4 linked regions of the Homo sapiens genome follow. The protein of the gene in region 3 purifies or fractionates together with the protein of the main gene of each other region. This does not show direct contact. Each region holds a gene or a part of one and is shown on either strand. Other genes may lie near its edges. The genes, in order: UTRN, GPI, PGM5 and TALDO1.

Region 1 (4,208 bases), on a different chromosome or scaffold from region 3:
TTTGTCAGAATTCAGTTTCTTAAAAGAACTTCACCTCCAAGAAGTTCTTGCAAGAACAATGCAAATCAATCCAAGAAACATAGGTTTTCTAAATACATAAAAATCCATAGCTTTCTTGAGCTTCCTTTACCTACCAGATCTGGACTTAATGATATCACTGAATTCGTTCTGCCCATTGTCAGGACTGGCTTCATGTTCTCCATACTTGGCCATCTTGCCAGAGTTTCAAGATAATCCAAAAACTTTACCAAGTCCTCTTTCTAAGGCTTTCAACTTCCTACGATGGTTCAGCTTGACATCAATACCTAAAAGGAAAAGGGAAAGTACTGACTTGAAAAAATGTATTTATATATTTTATATAGTTATTCGTAGTAACTATTCATTCACCAAATATTTATTGAGTGCCTACCACGTGTAAAGCACCAAGCCAGGCAATGGTGTTATGACTATGAACAAGAGACATAGCCTCTGCCATTACGGCGCTTATGCACACTAAGCAATTAATTACATAATGAATTATTTCATTACAATACTGACAGACTACAAATCATACAAAGGAGAAGCACAGAGTATTAAGAGCACACAGCAGAGGAGTCTGACCTGCCCTGGGCAATTAGAGAAGGCTTTCTTGAAGAGACATTTGAGCCAAGCCTTTAAAGATGACAAGAATTTAATTAGCCAAAAAGGGAAACAGAAAGAGAAAAGGTAAGAGCTTCCTATGTGAAGTGGCAGAAAGAATCATGGAGCAGTCAAAGAATGGAGCACAAGCCAGTGTTTCTGGAAAGAAGACAGCCAAGAGACAAGTGTACCTGTTGAACCAGGTGAAGAAGCTGGGCAGGACCAGGGATAGGACCATGGAGAACAGGTCAAGGGTTTGTGTCTTTATCTGAAGAGCAATGGGGAGCCAGTAGATGGTTCGAAGGAGGGAACCAACATGGTCAAATTGGCCTTTTTAAAAGATCGTCAAGGGACGGGCACGGTGGCTCATGCCTGTAATCCCAGCACTTTGGGAGGCCGAGGCAGGTGGATCACGAGGTCAGGAGTTCGAGACCAGCCTGGCCAGCACAGTGAAACCCTGTCTCTACTAAAAATACAAAAAAAAAAAAAAAATTAGCCAGGCATGGTGGTGTGCACCTGTAATCCCAGCTACTCAGGAGGCTAATGCAGGAGAATTGCTTGAACCTGGGAGGTGGAAGTTGCAGTGAGCTGAGATCACGCCACTGCACTCCACCCTGGGCAACGAGAGTGAGACTCCATCTCAAAAAAAAAAAAAAAAAAAAAAAAAAAAAGACGATTGTGGCTTGTAGGTAGACCACAGTAATATGTGGGGAACCAGTGAAGACTATGGCAGAATATAGCAAAATGCAAATTAAGGAACCTAGCTCATGGGTATATGAATGCTGAATGAAAATTTCTTGCAACTCTTCTGTATGTCTGAGAATTTTTTCATAGTAATATGTTGGGGAAAAATTCCTAATCTTAACCAAGTGATCAAAATTCACATAACCAATCATGGGGCATCATGCAATTGAATGGAAAATCACCACATCATCTACACAATATCCTTGCCAAGATGTTGAACGTGAATCTTCTCATGAGCAGACAAATCTAGACTGTGGCTAGTTTTCAAAAGAAATGGCCTGGTTTCTTCAAAACTGTCAGCGTCTTGAAAACCAAAATTACCTGGGAGAGGGGGAGCTTTGTGAATTAAAGGAGACTAAATAGACATGACAATGAAATGTAATCTTTGATTGAATTCAGAATTTTAAAATAAAACATTTGAGGATCATTTGAAAAATCTGAATTTGGACTATGTATTAGACAATATTATTGTATCAATGTTAAATTTCTTTAACATTAATTATGGTATTGTTGCAGGAGAATGTCTTTGATTGTAAGAGACATGTGGTGAAATATTTAGCAATGAAGTGTGATGGTATCTTCAACTTAAGTTCAAACAGAATAGCATATATCTGTCTATACTGATATAGGTATATTTAGGTTGATATATGTATGTAGATGTATATATGCATACACACAGACAGACAGAAAAATGCAGTAAGTATTGTAAAATAAGTGGGAAAACTAGGCCGGGCAAGGTGGCTCACGCCTGTAATCCCAGCACTTTGGGAAGCCAAGGCAGGTGCATCACCTGAGTTCAGGAGTTCGAGACCAGCCTGGCCAACATGGTGAAACCCCATCTCTACTTAAAAAAAAATACAAAAATTAGCTGGGTGTGGTGGCAGGTGCCTGTAATCCCAGCTACTTGGGAGGCTGAGGCAGGAGAATCACTTGAATCCAGGAGGCGGTGGTTACAGTGAGCCGAAATTGTGCTATTACTCTCCAGCCTGGGTGACAAGGGCAAAATTCCATCTCAAAAAAAATAAAGTAAGTGGGAAAACTTGTTAAAGGGCATCTGGGTCTAGGCGAGGTGGCTCACACCTGTAATCCCAGTACTTTGGGAAGCTTAAGCGAGAGGATTACTTGAGCCCAGAAGTTTGAGATCAGCCTAGGCAACATGGTGAGACCTTGTCTCTACTCCATGTAAATAAAAATTTTAAATAATAAAATAAAATAAAATAAAAAGGACATCTGGGTGTTTATTGTGCTATTCTTTCTATTGTAATATTATATGCAGGAAACAAGTGTGGTCTAAACAAGAGTAGATAGAAAGAAATGGGTGAATATGTGGGATATTTAGATATCAAAGAAAGTCAATAGGATTTGGGAATTGATTGGATATGAGAGATTCATATCCAATGTGCAAAATGTGCAAAATGACTCCCCAATTTTGGCTTAGGCAATTAGGTGAAGTGTGAGTCATTGAGCTGGGCAACACTGAGGATAGCAGGCTGGGAGAAAGGAATCATCAATGTGATTTGGATTTGCAGAGCTTGAAATGCCTCTGAGTTATATAAGCGGAGATGACAAAAAGAGAGTTGGGCCCAGCATGGTGGCTCATGCCTGTAATCCCAGCTCTTTGGGAGGCTGAGGCAGGCAGATCACTTGAGGTCCAGAGTTCAAGACCAACCTGGCTAACACTTGAGGTCAAGAGTTTGAGACCAGCCTGGCCAACATGGCGAAACCCTGTCTCTACTAAAAATATAAAAATTAGCCAGGCATGGTGGCAAACACCTGTAATCCCAGCTACTCAGGAGGCTGAGGCAGGGGAATTGATTGAACTCAGGAGGTAAAGGTTGCAGTGGGCCAAGATCGCTGCCACTGCACTCCAGCCTTGACGACCGAGTGGGTGAGACTCCATCTCAAAAAAAAAAAAAAAAAAAAGAGAGAGAGAGAGAGTTGGATATAAAGGATTGGATCATCAATCTGACAGATTTTATGAGAGTCTAAAAAACTTTTTTCATTTTTTATAGGCTCTACTACTGCTAAAAATTTATGGATTATTATATGATTACATTCTTTCATTCAAGTACATAACTATAAAGGATTTGCTAAATTCTTAAGTGTATTTTATTATATTCAAGAATCAAAAACTTTGTTCAGAAGAATGTCTATAAAAGTTTATCATGGAAAATTAAGTTTGCCCAGGGAAAAATTCTCTTTCCTGGAAAGAACTACAGTGTATCACTTTGGAGCAGTAAGTCTAATGCTTTTCTTCACTATTGGTCTTAGCCAAGATCTCCACTTCTATGCTACCCAAAGCCTTTATTCACCCATAAAAGAGAAAAGTCAACTGTTTACACACTACTTTATTCCATTTGCCCATTATCAGTAACACTTCTTCACTATAATGTTTCACTTGCCACTCTCCTCAAGGTGATTTTTCAAATTTTTCTCTTCTTGATAATGAAAATCCCTTACAGGTTGCAAAGATACAGCAGAAAAGGTGATCAGAGTACAGAGGAAAATGGGGAGAAAGAAGAATAACAGAAGGCTATTTAAATAGTGATAGCCACTGAGGTTACTTGCCATTAATGGCCAGAGGAATTTGAGTACACTTAAGGCAAAGGATGACTCCTTCTAATTGCCAAATGCAGAATCTTTGGTTCTCAGGAGACAGAATCAAAGTTTCACCACGAACAATGCATCCCAGTGTGACCCTCCGTCTTCCACACCTATAAAATGGAGGGAACACCATCTTCACAGAAGGCTAGGTGAGAAACTGAGAATCAATGAATGAGATGTTGCTTTAGAAGCTTCAAGCCCTATACAAATGCAATTTATTGTTACCTCTGCCCTAGATTTCC
Region 2 (4,208 bases), on a different chromosome or scaffold from region 3:
AAGAGACAAATTACCCCTCACACACCCAGCATACAATGGTGAGGTGGGCATGGGATGACTGGTATGTATGGGATAATTATTTCTTTTCTTTTCTTTCTTTTTTCTTTTTTTCTTTGTTTTTTTTTTTTTTGAGGTAGGGTCTCACACTGTCGCCCAGGCTGGAGTGCAGTGGTGCAGTCACTGCTCACTGCAGCCTCGAACTCCTGGGCTCAAGCAATTCCCCACCTCAACCTTCTAAGTTGCTGGGACTACAGGCACATGTCACCATGCCTGGCTACTTTTTTATTTTTTGTAGAGATGACGTCTTGCTATGTTGCCCAGGCTAGTTTTAAACTCTTGGCCTCAAGTGATCCTCCTGCCTCAGTTTCCCAGTAAGTGCTGGGATTATAGGCATGAGCCACTGAGTCCGGCCTGCATATTTAGGTTTTTATTATGACCACACTGTACTTCTGATACCAAAATCTGTATTAGTTATCTATCATTGTATAACAAATGACATCAAAACTTGGGTTAAAACAGCAATACACTTTTTTTTTTTTTTTTAAGACGGAGTCTTGCTCTGTCGCCCAGGCTAGAGTGCAATGGCGTGATCTCCACTCACTGCAACCTCTGCCTCCTGGATTTAAGCAATTCTCCTGCCTCAGCCTCCCGAGTAGCTGAGATTACAGGCACACGCCACCATGCCTGGATAATTTTTGTATTTTTTTTTTTTAGCAGAGACGGGGTTTCACCATGTTGACTAGGCTGGTCTCGAACTCCTGACCTTGTGATCTGCCTGCCTTGGTCTCCCAAAGTGCCAGGATTACAGGTGTGAGCCACCATGCCCGGCCTAGCAGTAAACTTTTATTACCTCTCACAGTGTCTGTGGGTCAGAAGTTTGGGAGCGGCTTAGCTGGTTGGTCTTGGTTTGGGGATCTCTCATAAGGCTGTAGTCAACATGTTGGCCAGCGCCCCAGTTATCGGAAGTTTTGATGGGTTTGGAGGACCCCCCTCTAAAGTGTCCCATACACAGGAAGCGAGTTGGCTGTGACTTTTGGAAAAAGGCCTTAGTTCGCTGCCGCGTGGGCTTCTTTATGAAACTGTTTGAATGTCTTCACAACATGATAGACAGCTTCCCCAAAGCGAGTCATCCAAGAGAGCAAAGCAGAAACTGCACGTTCTCTGAACTCACTTCTGAAGTCACATTTCACCCCTTTTTGCAGTCTCTGGATGGGTGCATAGGTCACCCCTCCCAGCACAGGCGGAAGCTATGCAGAGGCATGAATTCCAGGAAGCAAGGATCACTGGTGTCTGATTGGAGACTGGCTGCGGGTCTGATACTCCTTTCCCCAGCATAGCCCAGTCACAGTTTTCAACATTTCACATCTCTTGGTCTCTGGCATAGCAGATTCTGCCGAGTTATCCCTGGTTTTGCAAATTCTGACAGTGTCGCTGTAAGGTAGGGATGTCTCACTGTTGTAACCAGGAAAGAGTCTAGTTGGTGGTGAGTGTGGCAGGGACCAGTGTGGTCTCCAGAGACTCCTATGCCTTGTGTAGTGGCTCACGCCTGTAATCCCAACACTTTGGGAGGTCAAGATGGGAGGATTATTTGAGGCCAGGAGTTAGAGACCAGGCTGGGCAACGTAGCAAGACGCTGTCTCTACAAAAAATAAAATAGGCTTTGCGTGGTGGCTCATGCCTGTAATCCAAGCGCTTTGGGAGGCCGAGGCAGGTGGATCACCTGAGGTCAGGAGTTTGAGACCAGCGTGGCCAACACGGCGAAACCCCATCTCTACTGGAAATACTAAAAATTAGCTGGGCAGGGTGGCAGGTGCCTGTAATCCCAGCTACTTGGGAGGCTGAGGCAGGAGAATTGCTTGAACCCTGGAGCCTGGAGGCGGAGGCTGCAGTGAGCTGAGATCGTGCCGTTGTACTCCAGCCTGGGCGACGGAGTGAGACCCTGTCTCAAAAAAAAAAAAAAAAAGGCTAAAGCAGAGCATTTTGTTCTGTTTTTGGAGTCAGGGTCTTCCTCTGTCACCTAGGCTGGAGGTGCAGTGTTGCGATCTTGGCTTGCTGCAGCCTCAACTTCCTGGACTCAAGCAATCCTCCTGTCTCAGCCTTGAGCCACCCTGCCTGGCCCCTAAGGCACAGTTTTAAAAATAAGTAAATAGCGAGGCGCGGTGGCTCACACCTGTAATTCCAGCACTTTGGGAGGCCGAGCTGGGCAGATCACTTGAGGCCAGTAATTCGAGACCAGCCTGGCCAACATGGCAAAACCTCGTCCCTACTAAAAATACAAAAAAATTAGCTAGGCATGCTGGTGGCGCAGGCTTGTAGTCCCAGCTACTCAGGAGACTGAGGCATGAGAATTGTTAGAACCCAGAAAGTGGAGACTCTGTCTCAAAAAAAAAATTAAAAATAAATAGCTGGGTGCGGTGGCTCAAGCCAGTAATCCCAGCACTTTGGGAGGCTGAGGCGGGCAGATCACAGGGTCAGGAGATCGAGACCATCCTGGCTAACACGGTGAAACCCTGTCTCTACTAAAAATACAAAAAACTAGCTGGGTGTGGTGGCGGGCGCCTGTAGTCCCAGCTACTCAGGAGGCTGAGGCAGGAGAATGACGTGAACCTGGGAGGCAGAGATTGCAGGGAGCCGAGATCATGCCACTGCACTCCAGCCTGGGCAACAGAGCAAGGCTTCATCTCAAAAAAAAAAAAAAAAAAAAAAAAAAAAAAAAAAAATATATATATATATATATATATGGTAAATTAAAAACAAAAAAATAGAGGCACCTGCGAGGGCCTGAAAGCTGGGACTGAGGTACCAGGACACGGCAGTAATGATGTTTTTGAGCAGCGGATTATGCCTGGGGGTTTGGGCTGATGGCATCTTCGCCCCTGTGCCAGCGTGTCCGGAGCGGTGACTGGAAGGGGTACACAGGCAAGACCATCACGGACGTCATCAACATTGGCATTGGCGGCTCCGACCTGGTGAGGAGAAAACTGCCTTGGGGTAGGGTGGGAGTCTGGGCACTGTTGGTCCCACTCAGGTCTTTACTTTCTCCAGGGATGGGACCTGGCTGTCTCCACTTTTCGTGGGCCCTGAATTCTTATTCTCTGATGCTATGTCTCCCCGCAGGGACCCCTCATGGTGACTGAAGCCCTTAAGCCATACTCTTCAGGAGGTCCCCGCGTCTGGTATGTCTCCAACATTGATGGAACTCACATTGCCAAAACCCTGGCCCAGCTGAACCCCGAGTCCTCCCTGTTCATCATTGCCTCCAAGGTATGAGTGCCGAAAACTGCCCGGCCCCTGGCCCTGTGTGTGTTGGGGTGGGGAGGGACAGCTGTCTTGCCATCCCCCTGGCCATTGGTCCCTTTTGGTGGGTTCCGAGTGAACCATGGTTTGTGGATCAGGTCAGTACAGCTGCCCTAGACTGTTTCCATGCCTAGCAGCAAATAAGGTTGACTGATGAAATCCTGAACACATCAGTTTGAACCTTTGTGTCCTGACCACACCCGCTCGCCTTGCGGCATCTCTGCTCAGCCTGGGACTGCTCGCCACTTTCTTACAAACCTGTCCTTTATGCCTGCTCCTTTTCTTGTTGTTGTTTTTGAGACAGAGTCTGGCTCTGTCACCCAGGCTGGAGTGTAGTGGCGTGATCTCGGCTCACTGCAATCTCCGTCTCCCAGGTTTCAAGCGATTCTCCTGCCTCAGCCTCCCAAGTAGCTGGGACTAGGCACACACCACCACGCCTGGCTAATTTTATTATTTATTTATTTATTATTATTATTTTTTAGTAGAGATGGGCTTTTGCCATGTTGGCCATGCTGGTCTTGAACTCCTGACCTCAGGTGATGCACCCCCCCTTGGCCTCCCAAAGTGCTGGGATTACAGTCTTGAGCCGCCATGCCCAGCCATGCTTGCTCCTTTCTGATCCCAGAGCCATGCCCTGATAATAGAGGGGTTTTGTTTGTTTTTATTTATGTTCTATTTACTCACATGAATGTACATAAAATATGAAGAATTCCATCTGAATTCTGAGATACCTTCCAGCCTGGGCCGAAGAGAGCCTCAGGTTGACTGCAGCCCCTCAGGGGAGAAGCTGCGGCCTTTGACCTGCAGGCTTAGGGTTGGGGGGTGTGTTTACCGTCCCCCCTCCTCTGGTTTTAAAGAGCTGGAATCTCAGGAGGTTATGTGGCGTCACTGTCACTGACCTGCAAATACTG
Region 3 (4,659 bases):
TGTTAAAACTTGCTTCCCCGCCCTTTTGCCAATAGGTACCACCACTTAAAGATGTGGAGTCAAAAAATCTTGAAATTTACAATGATGTAAAACTGAATATGTTTTAATCCTTTAGTTCCGTAAGGTTCAAATTCATTTTCATTGCATTTTCTTAAAATAATAGGATAGTATATGTTTATCTTTATTCACCCTCTAAAACCTCAGCTAAAGTGATTGAGTTTAACTTCACTCTCTTTTTCTGTCTGAGTTTAACTTCTTTGATAGGTGTTAATGAAGAATTACATAACCAAAAAGGGGGAGCAGGAAAGAGGGAAGAGAAGACAGGAAGAGGAGCAAAAACTAATAATTGAATTTCTGTACAAAATGGGCACTTTGCTCCTAAAGAATAGAGATCCCTCTATCTTGGCATCACATGGGATATGTCCTGGCAAAATGTGCCAGTGTAAAATGTTTCTGGGCACCAACAGGGTTATTAAGAGGAAAAGAATCCCTTCTGTTTTTACGAATCAAGATGATCAACACGGAACCGGAGGAAAGTGCCACTTTCTTGTGTTCTAGATTTTCATTTTTCTTCCAGCTTCCAGGAGTCTATGTGAGCTTGTCCATCTAGCCATCTTCATAGAGTAAGATAATTTAATACATGTAACCATAAATTGCTGCCAGATCAATATTTCCAAAGCACAGCTGTGATGTCACCTTTCAGCCCAAAACACTTCAATGCCTCCCCTTGCCTAATGAATTAAAACCTTACACCTCACTCTAGCATTTAGGTCCCTCCCAACAAGACTGGCTCACATCTCTCAGGATTCTTCTGTATCTACATGCCACTCAGGACACAATGGATTGCTTGTGATGTCTTGTACCTTGTGCATTTCCTTGTGTTCCTGTTGTGTGGATTGGAATGTGTGCACTCCCTTTATGCATGGGAATAGGTTAGGGCCCACAAGGAACTGAATTCCTCTCCCCCTCCCAAAATGCAAGCCTTCTTTTCCTGAATTACAGAATTTTTGTTTCTTCCATTATCCTAATATTACCCAAACTTCTTTTCTATCAGTATCTCTATATTAATAGGTGTCTTTATTTTTTATTTTATTTTTATTTTTTCTTTTTAGAGACAGGCAGGGTCTCACTTTGTCACCCAGGTTGGAATGCAGTTATGCAATCATAGTTCACTGTAACCTTGAACTTCTGGGCTCAAGCCATCCTCCCATCTCAGCCTACCGAGTAGCTAGGACTATAGGCACACACCACTGCACTCAGCTAATTCTTATTTTTTGTAGAGATGCGGTCTATGTTGTTCAGGCTGGTATTAAACTCCTGGCTCAAGTGATCCTCTGCCTCAGCCTTCCAAAATATTGGGATTACAGGCATGAGCCACCACGCGTGGCCAATATTTGTCTTTAAATTGACTCACTTTGTTTTTACCTCAATCTACTTATTTATTATAAAAGTACTCTACATGGAAAAAACAATACCACTTGATAAATATAAGCACATCATGAACATGAATTCAATAAAAACATTCAGTGACATTACATTCTAGCTGGGTAACTCCTGAGGCATGCACTATCTTGGTTAAATTGTTAAAGATTGGCAGCAAACAGAGTTTCTCCTTGATGAAATCAGAAGGATTGAAGAACGGAAAATAGACTGATTTTCTCACTGTTTTATTAGCAATACCATATCCATGCACCACTGAAAATCATTGTGAGTGTTGCATGCTCCACACCTCGGAAAACAATGCCTCAATCCCATGAAACAATAAGAAAGAAATGAGTCTTCCTCCTTCTCATGTCCTTCAACTTCCCAAGAACCTATTCCTTAGGCTTCTAAAGCATGCCCACCTCCTCCAGAAAACCCACTGAGGTGCCTCATAAGCCCAGTGTTACGTAATGGGAAGGCATGATCAGTCATTTCTGCAACGTTGGCCAATGAATTGGTCTGTCATTTCAGAAACATCAGGATTGTGGGTTCTTTAAATCCATGGCCCTAGGATGAAGAATGAGCTTTTATTCTCGTGTGTGTGTGTGTGTGTGTGTGTGTGTGTGTGTGTGTGTGTGTGTGGTGAGGATGAGGGTGTAGCAGCAGAAGACTGGAGTTTTTCTGAACTCCCTTAATTCACAATGCTGTCTTCATACAGTGCTCTCATGTTTGGTAGTTGGGTTGTACATTTTCCTATTATAGATAAATTTCTTTTGAAGCTGGTTAAGACTTTGGAGATCACCTTCTCCCCCTACTCTCCTGCCCTGCCCATTCCAACTACCATTGGTGGAGGAGGAAGCAAATGTCCTGCTCATGAAGACTGCCTGTAAACAGTGAATTGGAATCTGAGTCCAGATGCTTATGGTAGAAATCCATCAGAATGCCCCAAAATGTAACTGACTTGAGTTGTTCACAGACTTTCCTTTTCCTTTTGCAGGCAGTGCTGAGCCCTCTCATAGCCATCGCACTGAAAATATCCCAGATTCATGAGAGAACTGGCCGGAGGGGACCCACTGTCATCACCTGAATAGAGGAAAGATCACTCACCAGGGCCAAAGAGAGTGCTCAGCGGGAGATGCTTCACTGATGCCTTCTTGCTACCTGTTTGTGCCTCTTATGACTTTGGAAAAACAAAAGATATTTTGCTTTTGGGGGATAGAGGGTGGGTGGGAAAAGAAAAAAAATCCATTTGGTTTTGGTTTTGTCCTATTCCTCCAAATGCAGCAGGGCCTTTAGTTGTCTGTTAAAGCTGCACTATAATTTGGTATCTACATTTTATCACACAAAGGAACCTCCCCTTTTGACAACAACTGGGCTAGGCAGCTGTTAATCACAACATTTGTGCATCACTTGTGCCAAGTGAGAAAATGTTCTAAAATCACAAGAGAGAACAGTGCCAGAATGAAACTGACCCTAAGTCCCAGGTGCCCCTGGGCAGGCAGAAGGAGACACTCCCAGCATGGAGGAGGGTTTATCTTTTCATCCTAGGTCAGGTCTACAATGGGGGAAGGTTTTATTATAGAACTCCCAACAGCCCACCTCACTCCTGCCACCCACCCGATGGCCCTGCCTCCCCCATCCCATCCCCAACATCCCTGTACCACCTTCTCTCACATCTTCTAAAGCTTTGTACAAATCACAATGGTGCACTTCCAACAAAATATATCAATAGGTGTTTTCCTCTCTTATTTTGTAAATAGTATTATTTTAGCTATTAAGCTGGATACCTTCTTTCAAATTCAGCCATTCAGTTGTAAAGTTGGGAAGAAGTTTCTTGACAAGACTCTGCAATTAAATGCTTAAAATTTGGAGGGGATCCTTCCTTGATTACATCAAGTATGTTGGTACATGGGTTTATACAAGTTCCTCTTGAGAAGGCAAAAAGACCACCATGTGTGAGAGCTCTTTGACTTGGCCAATAGGGGCCTATCTTAATGCACTTGTTTGGACACATTTCTGATCTTATTTGTAAAGGCTGCAAAAGGAGAGGATGAAATGCTGTAAAAGTAGGAAATGAAGTGGAAGCTGGAAGAAAATGTAATTGGTGGTACAGCTATGGGCCAGATGGTGGAGGGGAGGGTGGGGACCCCTGCCGGCAAGCAGAGTGTCACAGCTGGCTTTCCTCACTTGGGAAAAGGGTACTGCCGGTCTAGCAGCCTCCTCTGTACTCAGCCAGGACACCCAGCGCGTGGGACCTGTTTGTGTCTGTTTTGCTTCCTTGGGAACGGCACAGTCACTCACCCTGCCATTTGCGGAAATGACCTGGTGCACTTTGACTGTTAAGCAATGCGTTATTGCTGTAGTCAAGGTTAGTGCAAGCAAGGAAACATTCCCAGTAAGGTATTTGTTTCCATTTTCTGTCTGTGCTTCTGTCAGAAACTTGCTAGGACATTTAGTGGCCAATAAAAAAGAAATTCCTAATTTCAACCTTATCCAAGGATTGTGGGTTTTTACTTATTTGTTTGTCTCACCAGTTGAGAAACTCCAGTACTGGTCACCTATCCTGATAAATCTGCCTTTCAGAAAACCTGCAAGGGCTGTTTTTCACTATTATGGCAAGAGACATGTATTAAATGGAACAGAAAAGGTAAGTTACTCAAAACTGCCTTTGGGAGTCAGCAGAAACTGAAATGGCATCTAGACCTCCACTGTAACTGTCTTCATTTCAAAATAATAGGAAGGTGGCTTTGAGCTGAGATTCTAAAACAAAACCATTTCAAGATTGATCACCAGTGGAATCAAATTCATGTCATAGCTTTGGTTCTCAGGTTCTTGTCTCAAGAGTGGACATCTATGCTAGCCATCCATGTGTTCATTAATCACGGATGTCTTGGTTGGGACGCTCAGATGTATTCTTAGGTGTATCAGCTCTAGGTAAGAAAATATTTATTTTCTCAAGTTGCTGAACTTTTAATGATCTCTAACTTGTAAGTTCATATGTAAATTAGTCCTTACATAAAAATTATATTTCTTTATTTTGATATGGAGTCATGCGTGGACAGTAGCCCAAATATATATTTAGCCATCAGTCCATCCATTCATCCATCTATGTGTTCATTCATTCATTCTGTGGACATTGGTTGAGCAACTCCTCTAGGCAGAGTTCTGTTTTAGATGGGGCAAAGAAATGGATAAAACATTATTCCTGATCTTATAAGTTTATAATTTGGGAGTAGG
Region 4 (4,208 bases), on a different chromosome or scaffold from region 3:
CCCAGCTAATTTTTATATTTTTTTGTAGAGACAGAGTTTTGCCCTATTGCCTAGACTGTTCTCGAACTCTTAGGCTGAAGGGATCCTCCCATCTTGGCCTACCAAAGCACTGGGGTTACAGGCGTGCACCACTGCCCCCAGCCCACCATTTTAAAATGTATTCAGCACATTCACAGTTCTGTACAACCATCACCATCCATCTCCAGAGCTCTTTTCATCATCCCAAACTGCATCCCTCTATCTTTTGGCACTTGCAAAATATTATATTTTCTATCTCTTCAAAGTTATTGGACAGACACCCAGTGAAGTCCATGATTCTGTTCCAAAATCTGAGCAGCCTTGTTAGCCCACTACACACAGGAAGATCTTCAGCTAGACGCTCAGAGGTTAGAATTCTTGGGCCAGACTGGGTGCAGTGGCTCACGCCTGTAATCACAGCACCCTGGCAGGCCAAGGTGGGCAGACTGCTCAAGCTCAGGAGTTCGAAACCAGCTAGGGCAACATGGTGAAACCCTGCCTCTAAAAACAAATACAAATATTAGCCAGGTGTGGTGGCGTGCACCTGTAGTCCCAGCTACTTGGGAGGCTGAGGTGGGAGGCTGGCTTGAGCCTAGGATGTAGAGGCTGCAGTGAGCTGAGATTGTGACACTGCACTCCAGCCTAGGTGACAGAGCCAAACTCTATCTCAAAAAAAAAAAAAAAAAAAAATTTGGGGCCATCTGGACATGGGTGCAGGGCTCATCTGTTGATCACCCAGCCAAGCAAAGGCACCAATGTCACCCAATAACAGGAGCACCAAGGCCTCACTGATGCCACAGGGGTGCAACACCACGAGATGAGGAAAAGGGAGCTAAGAAGAGAGAGGAGAGGGTCAGACTCAGTGTCCAGAGTGGCTGTCACAACATGGTCAGGGGAGCCACTCACCAGCCACCTGGACCTAAGCAAAGCCAGTACCAGAGAGGGACCTGCTCCTGTGTGGTGCCCACGTTGCCTGCTCGGCACCATCTTCAAGCTTTGAATTATTACCCTGAAGAGAATCTAAAATGACATCTAAAATATGCAAAGCCACAGGCATGAAGAGGGCTCTACAGTTGCTTGGTTGGGTAAGGGAGTGGGGAGCTACTGCAAACAGGTACCAGAGAACATTCTGGGAGTTATAAAAGCTATTAAAAAATTAAAAAGCCAGGCACGGTGGCTCACGTCTGTAATCCGAGCACTGTGGGAGGCCAAGGCAGGTGGATCACTTGAGGTAAGAAGTTCGAGACCGGCCTGGCCAACATGGTGAAACCCTGTCTCCACCAAAAATACAAAAATTATAGCCAGGTGTGATGGCGCATGCCTGTAATCCCAGCTGCTCGGCAGGCTGAGGCAGGAGAATCGCTTGAATCTGGGAGGCAGAGGTTGCGGTGAGCCGAGATTGTGCCAGTGCACTCCAGCCTGGACAACAAAAGCAAAACTCTGTCTCAAAAAAAAAAAAAAAAAAAATACAAAAATGAGCCAGGAGTGGTGGCACACACCTGTAAGCCCAGCTAATTGGGAAGCTGAGGCAGGAGAATTGCTTGCACCAGGGAGGCGGAAGTTGTAGTGAGCCAAGATTGCTCCACTATACTCCAGCCTGGGTGACACAGCGAGACTCCGTCTGAAAAGTAAAAAATAAAATGACAGCCAGAAGGTAAGTGTTACCAGAGCTGGGGAGACTGACTACAGGAGGGGAGGAGGGGCCTGTGGGGGTCTGCAAGTGCTCTGCATCTTGACTGGGGTGGTATTTACAGGGTACACACATTGGCAAAACTCTCTGAACTGCTCATTTACCACAGGTGCAGGTTACTTCATGCAGATTACACTTCAATAAACAAAAATAGGCAAAAAGATAGGGTTTTTTTCCCCCCTTGAGTTCATGGTGTTTGAGAACTAAAATTCAGTTAGGGAGGGAAGCAAGGCCAACTAGACTAGCACGAGGGCCTAGCTGGGACCCTCCCGAGTCCAGGCACTCACCCGCCCAGCTTCCGGCCATAGGCAATCGCCTCCTCCACCAGCTCCTGGTAAGCGGGCATCTGTGCTGCGGCCAGGATCAGGGACGGGTTGGTGGTAGCATCCTGGGGCTTGTACTCGTCGATGGCTAGGGAAATAGTTTTCAAAAGCCAAAGTAAGTGGAGTACTTGCTTCCAACTGGAAACATGTGAAGGAACCCTGTAATTCCCCAGGACGTTAGGGGAGTCCAGAGCATTTCCGAAAGCGGGGTCCAGCCACACTTCTCACACCTTCTTCTGGGTCACTGAAGGTTCATCAAGAGGCGGCTGTTTGCATAATGATGGAACAACAAACACTAAGTGCCCAGCGATCAAATATGCCCCTGCAAGAGGTGACCTGTAACAGCATGGGAGTGAGCGGTGCGACAGCTGGGAGAACGCTGGTCAAAGGAAAATGTGCATCCCACTGCCGTACCACCACAAGGAGGCGCGCGGTCTAGTCATGAGCCACATGTGAACGCTGATCTTATGGACTGGGTCATTATCACCATACCCAGCTGCAACAGAGTCAAGAAGCCAAGGGGAGCTGGGCGCGGCGGCCCACGCCTGTAATCCCAGCACTTTGGGAGGCTGAAGCGGGTGGATCACGAGGTCAGGAGATCAAGACCATCCTGGCTAACACGGTGAAACCCCGTCTCTACTAAAAATACAAAAAACTAGCTGGGTGTGGTGGTCGGCACCTGTAGTCCCAGCTACTCGGGAGGCTGAGGCAGGAGAATGGCTTGAATCCAGTAGGCGGAGCTTGCAGTGAGCCGAGATCGCGCCACTGCACTCCAGCATGGGTGACAGAGTGAGACTCCATCTCAAAAAAAAAAAAAAAAAAAAAAAAAAAGGCCAAGGGGAAAAGCACTCAGGACACACAGCATTGCTCCAAAAATTATTACCTGCAAGCCTAGTTGCTGAAGCGGCCTCTAACCTGAAACCAGTTTATCTAATAGTTGCTGAACCGCACTGCTGCAACTTTAAGACTAATTTTATCCACTGCTATCACTCACCAATCATTCTTTTTAGGTTTCATAGAAAGACTAAATTAGCCAGGTGTGGTAGTGCATGCCTGTAGCGTCAGCTACTCAAGAGGCTGAGGCAGGAGGATCGCTTGAGCCCAGGAGGTTGAGACTGCAGTGAGCCATGATCATGCCACTACACTCCCACCTGGGCCAGAGAGCAAGACCCTATCTCTTAAAAAAATAAATTCAGGCCGGGTGCAGTGGCTCATGCCTGTAATCCCAGCATTTTGGGAGGCTGAGGCTGGTGGATCGCCTGAGGTCAGGAGTTTGAAACCAGCCTGGCCAAAATGGTGAAACCCAGTCTCTACTAAAAATACAAAAATGAGCTGGGTGTGGTGACACATGCCCGTAATCCCAGCTACTCAGGAGGCTGAGGCAAGAGAATCGCTTGAACCCAGGAGGTGGAGGTTGCAATGAGCTGAGATTGCACCACTGCACTCCAGCCTGGGTGACAGAGTGAGACTCTGTTTCATAAATAAATAAGCAAACAAATAAATAAATATCGCATTCAGTAGCTTCTGCAGGTAACTTGACAAAACCTGACCTAAGAATCCTTTTAGTCGGAGTGGACAACTTTGACAATGTCCCAAGTTTTTGTTCAAATTGTACTGGTGGTCCCTTTTATAAAGCTGACATTCTCTGCTTTAATCAACCCAGTCATAAAATGCTACTCAGTGGCTGGGCACAGTGGCTCACACCTGTAATCCCAGCACTTTGGGAGGCCAACGGGGGTGGATCACTTGAGGTCAGGAGTTCGAGACCAGCCTGGCTAACACGGCGAAACCCTGTCCCTACTAAAAATATAAAAATTAGCCAGGCGTGGTGGTGCATGCCTATAATCCCAGCTACTCGGGAGGCTGTGGCAGGAAAATCACTTGGACCCGGGAGGTGGAGGTTGCAGTGAGCCGAGATTGTGCCACTGCACTACAGCCTGGGCAATGGAGCAAGACTCTGTTGCAAAAAAAAATAAAAAAGTTTTTTTCTTCAGAGTAACCAACTAAACAGTTCAAAACGTCCAAACTTGTAGCCACTGAGTAGCTTTTTTTTTTTTTCTGACACAGAGTCTCACTCTGTCATCCAGGCTGGAGTGCAGTAAAATGATCTCGCCTCACTGCAACCTCCTCCTCCAGGGTTCAAGTGATTCTCCTACCTCAGCGTCCTCAGTAGCTGG

Evidence for each region.
Region 1: the proteins of PGM5 (region 3) and UTRN purify together in Homo sapiens (affinity purification with western blotting, with the first as the bait; one study listed by BioGRID). This does not show direct contact.
Region 2: the proteins of PGM5 (region 3) and GPI fractionate together in Homo sapiens (co-fractionation; one large-scale study listed by BioGRID). This does not show direct contact.
Region 4: the proteins of PGM5 (region 3) and TALDO1 fractionate together in Homo sapiens (co-fractionation; one large-scale study listed by BioGRID). This does not show direct contact.

The regions. Positions count from the first base shown.
Region 1 is NC_000006.12:144,287,834-144,292,041, reverse strand, and holds part of UTRN (utrophin), read right to left. Parts: exon of another isoform or gene 4,088-4,208; intron 306-4,087; 5' UTR 214-305; coding exon 135-213; intron 1-134.
Region 2 is NC_000019.10:34,374,618-34,378,825, forward strand, and holds part of GPI (glucose-6-phosphate isomerase), read left to right. Parts: intron 1-2,885; coding exon 2,886-2,969; intron 2,970-3,117; coding exon 3,118-3,264; intron 3,265-4,208. UniProt on the Homo sapiens protein: In the cytoplasm, catalyzes the conversion of glucose-6-phosphate to fructose-6-phosphate, the second step in glycolysis, and the reverse reaction during gluconeogenesis.
Region 3 is NC_000009.12:68,527,148-68,531,806, forward strand, and holds the end of PGM5 (phosphoglucomutase-like protein 5), read left to right. Parts: intron 1-2,419; coding exon 2,420-2,509; 3' UTR 2,510-3,914; downstream 3,915-4,659. UniProt on the Homo sapiens protein: Component of adherens-type cell-cell and cell-matrix junctions. Has no phosphoglucomutase activity in vitro.
Region 4 is NC_000011.10:753,790-757,997, reverse strand, and holds part of TALDO1 (transaldolase), read right to left. Parts: intron 2,120-4,208; coding exon 1,996-2,119; intron 1-1,995. UniProt on the Homo sapiens protein: Catalyzes the rate-limiting step of the non-oxidative phase in the pentose phosphate pathway. Catalyzes the reversible conversion of sedheptulose-7-phosphate and D-glyceraldehyde 3-phosphate into erythrose-4-phosphate and beta-D-fructose 6-phosphate.